2 separate regions of the Homo sapiens genome follow, and region 1 is linked to region 2. The links come from fine-mapping of genetic effects on gene expression. Tissue or cell type: whole blood. Region 2 holds a variant in brackets; the other region holds the start of a gene. All regions are shown on one strand. Distances are between the middles of the regions.

Region 1 (4,174 bases), 320 kb before region 2:
TTTACTAATGGCACGTCCAGATAACCTTTAGTTTCCAATACTATTATTACAAAGGACTGCTCTCAAATTTGATTATTTTATGAAAAGTTTAATAATGCACAATAAATAGGTCCCCCCTTCACGTAGATACTACCCACACAGCTTGTCTCTGCGAATATAAACGTAGTCCTTGTACATACATACAGACACAGCGACGCATATACCTACAGGATGATATGCAGTTATGTATATGTGTGTCAGTTGACAAATCTAAGCCCTTGGATTTAGATTAAAATGTTTCTACCTTCAGTCGTTTGCTCCATTCTATGCTAAATCCTGTAGAAGGCTGGGAAGAACTGGGGACCTCAAGCCAAAGAAGTTTCTTGATTATAACTGACAGGCAGCGGAATATCAGTTTTAGGGAATCAAAAGTTGAGTTGGAAGGCTGCTGGTTTGGAAACTAAGGTTGGTTCCAAGTGGTCCGACCTGATTCCCAGGATCTTTGTGAGAGCTGCTGGGAGAACTGAAAATTAACAGCGAGGACACAGGACGCCCTAGGTAACGTCCTCCCCGCTATTCTGCTCTTCTCAATTCAAGGGCCGAGACAACTTGCTTTTGTGGAAAAGGGAAGTAAAGGGAAAAGAGGAAAGCAAGGAAGTTCAGTCAGAAAGAGGAAGAGGGACAAAGAGGAAAGAAAGGGACAAAGAGGAAAGAAAGGGACAAAGAGGAAAGAAAGAGGGACAAAGAGGAAAGGCAAGGAGAAGAGAAGGAAAAATCAAGGTTCAGCAAGAAGTTGGAAGGCGAGGGAAAAAGGGGAGTAAAGAGAAGGCAAAAGAGGTCTAAGGGCTAGGAAGATGCAAGGATCTTTTTTTAACGAACCAAAGTCACATCCATCTTTCACTTTCAAATCAATCGTCTAGATCTTATCCGTTTCCTTTTTAAAGGTTATCTGCGTCTGTAAAGGAAGCCAGTAGTTGATACTCCTCTCCGCGCCCCACGCGTGGCCGCGCTGTTCTATCTCCGGCCACTGAGATCAAATACAACGCGAGTGAGAACATTTGCAGAGGCGCGACTCTGGGAACACTCCTGCGACTGGCTGTCACCCGGGAGTCTAACCGGATTAATACTCAGAGATGGATTACGCTGGTTGTCACCAATACGCCTAAAGATTATAATCCAATTTACGCACATTACAGTCAGTATTAACTTTATCTGCTATTTTAAGACTCCCGGTTGCCCCGCGCGTCCTCAGAGGACAATCCTCCACGTTCTGATGCAACTCAGTAGGCTGTCAGGAGGGGAAGCCCCCCGAAGAAAACAACTCCAAGCCTGGTCCCCGAGGGTCTGTACCCGGCACTCCCAGGTGTCTTGCTTTCACCTGGGCACCGCTTTATGAAGCTTCCCAGCCGGGGATTACCAAAGCGGAAGGCGTTCCCTTGCAAGGAAATAGCATCCTTGTTTCTCCCTTGTTCATTTCATTTTCAAATTTTCGGTGGCGGTGGCAGAAGGGCGGGGAGTGAGGGTGGCGGGCGGGTGCCTGTGAGTGGATGGGGCAGGGGGCCAGGGGATCGTTGCGGGTTAGAACAGCCTCAGTCATTGCTATTTTCATGCTCGTTTTTTGCAGGATGGCATTTCTCTCGCTCTCTTTAAGTAAGTTTGTTTGGGTGTGAGTTCTTGTCTTTTCAGCACAAAACCACAGAAATACGTGGTGGAAAGTAAAAGAAAGCCCACTCCCTCCTCCCCGTGCGTACTAGCTAAGGACTTGATTTAACACCCCCTCTCCGGCTGCTGAGGGCTCTAAGCAGTGGCTACATTCCAGCAGTTTTAATCCGTTTTTTATTGTAGGGCGAGCAGAGTTTACACAGGGGCTGGGATGGCTCCCCAGCTGGCCGCTCTCCCCACTCCTGCGTCCCCTCCCTGCCACCCCCCCAGCAGGAACCTGTTACTTTAAGCGAGGCTTTCCAGTGTGGCGCTGCGGGCCGCCGGGGTTTCGGGAGGTGGCAGGTGATTGGCTCTTTCGAGCTCCCCCTGGCTCGCTCGCTCTGCCTCCCCGCGCGCTCCGCCCCGCCCGCAAGCCCTCCCTCCGCCCTGTGAGGCTCGGAGCCCGGGTGTCAGGCGCCACGGCGCATGCTCCGCAATCATCTTCTTTACCCTGGAGCTGCTGCTGCTGCTGCTGCTTTTGCTTTTGGGGCTGAGTTTAATAAGCGAGCGAGCGAGCAAGCGAGCGCGGGGGGAAAAAGGCAGAGAATGTCCGCCATCTACCCTCCGCTCCTGGGCGCGCTCTCATTCATAGCAGCCTCTTCATGAATTACAGCTGAGGGGGGGCGGAGGAGGGGGGGGTACCACACAACACCCCAGCAAACCTCCGGGCCCCCAGGCATGGCTAGCTCGGTAAGTACGCGCAAAAATAATAATAAAAGCCCTCCCCCACTTTCCTTCCTCGCCCTGCGCCGCCGCAGCCCAGACAGCGCCAGCGCTCCGCGGTTCCAATTAGAGAAAGGTTGGTACGGCTTGCAGGGAGCTGCCGCCTCTCCCTCAGCCTCCGCTCCCCTCCTCCCCCACCCCCCCCCGGCGCGCACACAGACACACAGACACACACACACTCACACACGCTCACACTCGCCCCTCCACCCCCCGCGCCTCCCTCCCTCCTCGCCTCTTTGCAGTCACAAGAAGCGCACTCACACACTCCCTCTCGCTCACACGCGCGCACTCACACACACACACACACACGGTGGAAGGAGGCGAATAATAACTCAGCCATATTTCAGCCGCCGCCGCCGGGAGCTGCGGGCACAGTCCGGGGACGCGGCGAGCAGCCTCGGCGGCCGCACCTCCGCAAAGCGCCGCGGCCGCTACGATGGTGCGTTCTCCGCGGCGCGCGTGTGTGAGCCGAAGTGTGCGGGGCTGACAGCGGCGGGGCCGCACGCAACTTTGCCCCAGCGCCGGGAGGTGCTGAGCGCGAGCCGAGGCTCGGCGGCTGTCCGCCCGCCGCCCTGCCTTTCTGAATTTCATTTTTTGGGGGGAGGTGGGAGATACTTTGGAGCCACTTGGGCTCTTGAAAGTGTGTTGCGGGGGCTCGGTTCGACTGGCCTCGCCGATCGCGTGGGGCTTTTCGCTGGGGGGTGCGGGGTGCTCTAAGTTATGGATGCCTCGGCGTGTTTTCCTGCGGGCGTGTGTGTGTGTTTCAGTGTGTATGACGACGTCTCATTTTTGTTGTGCACGAACCCCGTGGCAAGAGCACGGGAGTTTGTGCCCATCAGCAGAGGCTGCCTGTAGTTTCCATTTCGCCTGGCACAGCGCTCCACACGCACGCACACACACGTACACAAAGACTTCCTCGGCGTGTGCCTGTCGCCGCGGTACTTTCGGGGAGGGGGCTCGCCAGGAGCCCTTCGGTCCCCCTGGGTCCCAGCCACCTCCCCTCCCACGCCGGGAAACCGCCCCGGCATCGCCTTCTGATTTGTTTCCGATGCATTTGTTGTCGTGCTTGTCGTGGCTGAGTGTGTTCTCCCTCTTTTCCCCGACCCCCTTCCCGACTGGGGATAACATTCCGTTACAATCCTGTCCGATGTAGATGCGGGGCCCGGGGCGCCTGGGGCCAAGCCGGGCCGGGCGGGCGGGTATATTTGGGGGTGTGGAGTGTGCGCGCCCACGCGCGTGAAACGTGGATGCAGAGGGCACCGCCGTTTCCTTTTATGTGCGTTTCAAGAAGGAGGAAAAAAATGTCAGGCGCAACGTTCACTGCCGAAACCTCGCCTTCCTGTTATTCACGGCTGTCTCTCCTCCCCCTGCCCGCAGTGTGCCGTGCAGGTGAAGCTGGAGCTGGGGCACCGCGCCCAGGTGAGGAAAAAACCCACCGTGGAGGGCTTCACCCACGACTGGATGGTGTTCGTACGCGGTCCGGAGCACAGTAACATACAGCACTTTGTGGAGAAAGTCGTCTTCCACTTGCACGAAAGCTTTCCTAGGCCAAAAAGAGGTAGGGCTCGAATACAAAAGGGTCTTGATAAAAAATGTCTTTGAAACAATCGCTTGGCCCGGGCGGTCCCGCTGTCCCGCTCCCCGCCCCCCGCGCCGCGCTCGCCGGCGTAGCCTCGGGATCCGGGTGCGCGGCGCCGCGCGGGCCAGGTCCCGGCTCCCGCCTGCCCGCGCGCGCGCCACTTCGGCTTGGTGAAAGTCACCGCAGAGAAAG
Region 2 (4,351 bases):
AGCCATAGACTGGGAGAATATATTTGCAAAAGGCAGTCTGATAAAGGACTGCTATCCAAAAGAAAAGTATAAAAAAAACTCAACACCAAAATATGAAAATAACCTGATTAGAAAATAAGCCAAAGATCTCAACAGACACCTCACCACATAAGATATACAGATGGCAAATAAGCATATGAAAAGAAGTTCCACATCACTGTCATTAGGGAAATGCAAATCAAAACAATGAGATACCATTACATACCTATTAGAATGACCAAAGCCCAGAACACTGACAACACTAAATGCTGACAAGGATGGGAAGCAACAGGAGCTCTCATTGATTGCTGGTGTGGGTGCAAAATATAACAGTATGGCCATTTGGGAAGACGGTTTGCCAGTTTCTTACAAAACTAAAAATATGCTTACCATACAGCCCAGCAACTGAGCTCCTTGGTAGCTACCCAAAGGAGCTGAAAATTGTACAAAAACCTACACACAGATGTTAATAGCAGCTTTATTCAGAATTGCCAAAAACTTGGAAACAGGATATCTTTCCATAGGTGAATAGATAAATAAACGGTGGTATGTCCATGCAATGGAATATTATTCAGCGTTAAAAGTAAATGAGCTGTCAAGCCATGAGGAAACTTAAATGCATATTACTAAGTGAAAGAAGTGAGTTGTAAAGTCTATATAGTGTATGATTCCAACTCTATGACATTCCGGAAAAGGCAAAACTGTGAAGACAGTAAAAAGACCAATGGTTGCCAGGGTTTAGCGAGGAGGGAGAGGTGAATAGGCAGAGTACAGAGGGGTTTTAGGGCAGTGAAAGTACTCTGAATGATACTATAATAGTGGATACCTGTCATTAATACATTTGTTCTGACCCACAGAATGTACAACACCAAGAGTGAACCCTAATGTAAACCATGGACTTTGAGTGATTATGATGTGTCAACATTGGCTGACAGTTGTAACAAATGTACCACGCTGGTGGGGGATGTTGATAATGGAGGAGGCTCTGCATGTGGGGGTGCATGGAGTATATTGGAAATCTCTGTACCTTCCTCTCAATTTTGCTGTAAACCTAAAACTGCTTGAAAAAAAAAAAAGGCTTTAATTTCTTTTAAAGTCTTCATCTCTTACTATGATACCCTGAGCATTTCCCCCAATGTCTTTAAGGGAAAAGAAGCTGGAAATAAAAGGGTAAATGTGTGGTAATGACAGCTTTGTGAAAGTATACACATAGAAGGGGAGAAATGCAGCAAAGTCATGTCTAGGTGGTAGGGTTATGGTTAAAATAATTATTTTCTTTTACATTTTTTCCAAGGTTTTCAAGATTGAACCTATACCATTTTTATAATAAGAAAAAAAAATGTACTCCCCAGACAACAATGGATGTGAAGCAATTGCCAGTCTTCAGCCTGTGAGACAAAGGGGGACTAAGAGCATGTTTACTTGCTTGGAAGGTAGGACTTTTAACCAATGTTTCTTTCACCTGCCAAAGGCTGAGAAGCCAAGAAGATACTGGAGGTAGAGCAAAGTGTGTGCCTTTGTGTTTTTGCTCTTGTTTGCTTGGGGAGCAATGTGCCTTTGTGGCCTCTTCAGGTGGGAGAAGAGGTAGAGGAAGAGCTCCTCCAGTTTTTAATCCCCTCATCTAATCACCAGACCTTTCTTGTGGTTTTCCTGGGACTCTTTTTACTCAATGGATGGATTGACACTGTTTGTGTGTGTATGTTGTACTTGGATTATGCCTTAATGTGTCACGATGATGACAAAAGGGTTTGCAACAGCAGGCAGGCAAATGTCCCTGCTTTTAATAGAAAGCACATTCCAGCACTTTATATTATCTGTAACACATAGAGCTGCTTAGAACAAAGCATTGCCCCTAAGACATGGTCCCCAAGAGTCTTTAATAAGTTCCAGACCTCTGTGAAGGTATTAATTAAATATTTTAAATAGAATGACTTTAGCTGGCTGGGGCATTTTTATGAGAGAAGGGAGTATATTTAAAACCAGGGC[C/T]GTTTCTGTAACAGGAGCTTGTTTTGAAGGAAATGTTCTTGGGTGGGGACTCTATGGGTACCAGGCTGTCAAATCTATGGGCCAACTTGATGTCAAAAACAGACATTCTGGATGTTTCAAACAATATTTGAATTGGGTCCTTGCTGCAGAATTTGGACATAATTCTGAAGCATGATTTTAACACAAAGGGGAGAATAGTAAGAGTCTATGGGTATACCAGGCACTGTTAGAGGTAGTTTCTCACAATAGTTCCATGAGAAGGGCTTTGACAAGGCCATTTTATAGAAAACAAACAAACAAAACCTAAGTGACTATTTTTCAAAGTCACAAAGTTTGATGGAGGAGCTCAATTAAAGTCTGTCCAATAAACTCAAAGTCTGTCCAATAACTAAAAGATATAATTGGATTGTTTTTAACACAAAGGATAAATGCTCAAGGGGATAGATACCCCATTTTCCAAGATGTAATTACCATACATGGCATGCCTGTATCAAAACACTTCATGTACCCCATAAATACATATATACCTACTATGTATCCATAAAAATTTTAAAAAAGTCTGTCTGCCCATCTATCCAACCATCATCTGTGTATTTACATATGCATTTTTCTACCTATCCATCTTCTATATTTCAGAATACTTTACTCTTTCTCAGGAAGTACTAGAAATAAAGATAAGCTTAAAAAGCAGATCCTGGTCCAATTGATAGACATTTCCTGAATTCAAAGTCATCAGAGTTATTGAATACTGTGTAGAGTCTAGAAGCACAGAGTTAGCTGATTTTTCTAGAAGGCAGCATGATGTAGTGAAAAGAGCAATGCACTTGGAATAAGAGGTCCAAGTTTGGATCCTGGCTCTGCCACTTATGGATATCTGTGACATCGAGCAAGTTTCTCCCTGAACGAGTTTCTTTGTCTCCAAAATTAGAATTGCATTTAGCATAGTGCCTAGTAGGTGACCAGGGAAGGCAAGTTAAACCTGAATTTGGTCCTAGTAGTGGGGGTAAGGAATAGGGAGAGGATTGTCCTTGAGTCCTTCATGGATCACTCTGGGTCTTCAGGAATCAGCAGTCCAATGGATTCATAAGGAACCTCCCCTTCCTGGCTAATGATAGCCAAAGTAACAAACTGGGGTAGAGTCACTCCCAAATGAGACATTGGAGCCCCCTCAAGGGAGTGATCATGTTCGATGGGCATCACAAGCATGGCAGGAAATGATTGATGCTGCTTTGGCTTCTTCCTGGATTCACTTCATTCCAGAGCCTGTCAATCCACTTCTTGGCATGAACAGCCCTTCTTGGGACCACCCTTAGTGTATTCCCACCTGCTCGAGAGCTCTATCCTTCTTCATGTCCCCAAGCTCCTTTCCCACATGCTATGTTGCCTCATACATGGAACCTTTGAATCCCTAAATAAAATAGGTATTCACATCTGTGAAGATCCTTTGTGACCTGGGACCCAGGGCTGTGTGCACGAAAGGGCTAATTTTTATTATTCCTTTAATGGGCCTGCCCTGCCTGCTCCTGCTCCCTCTCTATGAATCTTCAGAAGCCTCCAAGCTTTCCCATCTAGCCATTCTTGCTTATTTATCTCAAGACCTCAAATTGTCCTTCTCTGCTTTATTTGGGGAATGACTCTATGGGACTGTTGTATATACATCCCGACCCCCAAACCATCTCTCAGACCCTCCATGGCCGCATGTCCTCTAGGATCCTCCCTGTTCAGCACAGGTCTGTAGATGAGCTATTAAGAACTTAGAGTCATATGAGCCTCAGTCTGCCCCAACTAGCTGAGTGGGCTCTAGTAAGGAGAAGGGCAAAGGAAATGAAGAGCATAGGGGATAACTCACTACCTTTTTACCTCTCTCCTGCTGCTCAACTCTCTTGCCTCAGATCCTCATTTCTAAAATGAAGATAGTAGTTGTATCTTCCTCAGTGCTGTTTGGAAAGATTAAATGACTTAGTACATACAAAGCACTTAGTGTAGTGTTTAGCCCACAGGCTGCTGCTATTACTATTATGGCTGCTAATAGAAATCATTGGAAACATGATGATTTGAGATAGAACATTGTATATTAGGAAGAACGTATCTAGTTTTAAATCTAAGCTCTCTCACTTTAGTGTGTATGAAAATTAGTCTTTCTGGACCGGGTGCGGTGGCTCACGCCTGTAATCCCAGCACTTTGGGAGGCCGAGGCAGGCCGATCACCTGAGGTCAGGAGTTCAAGACCAGCCAGGCCAACGTGATGAAACCCCGTCTCTACTAAAAATATAAAAATTAGCTGGGCATGGTGGCGCGTGCCTGTAATCCTGGCTACTTGGGAGGCCAAGGCAGGAGAATCGCTTGA

Evidence for each region. PIP is the estimated chance that this variant, and not a neighbour inherited with it, causes the effect.
Region 1: it holds the start of MLLT3, and the variant in region 2 is fine-mapped to the expression of MLLT3 in whole blood (TOPMed, PIP above 0.99).

Annotation. Positions count from the first base shown.
Region 1 is chr9:20,620,441-20,624,614 of GRCh38, reverse strand. It overlaps MLLT3 (MLLT3 super elongation complex subunit), which reads left to right and starts at 2,116. Exons shown (of 11, transcript NM_004529.4): 1 at 2,116-2,370; 2 at 3,781-3,961. The coding sequence starts at 2,359. RefSeq lists silencers at 1,518-1,657, 1,678-2,137, 2,558-2,707, 2,778-2,827, 4,048-4,167 and an enhancer at 3,758-3,887.
Region 2 is chr9:20,298,326-20,302,676 of GRCh38, reverse strand. It overlaps a transcript of SLC24A2 not described here. Among named protein-coding and RNA genes, the nearest start is that of MIR4473, 110 kb to the left of the region's middle. RefSeq lists an enhancer at 1-610. The variant C/T (reference allele first, on the strand shown) is at 2,005.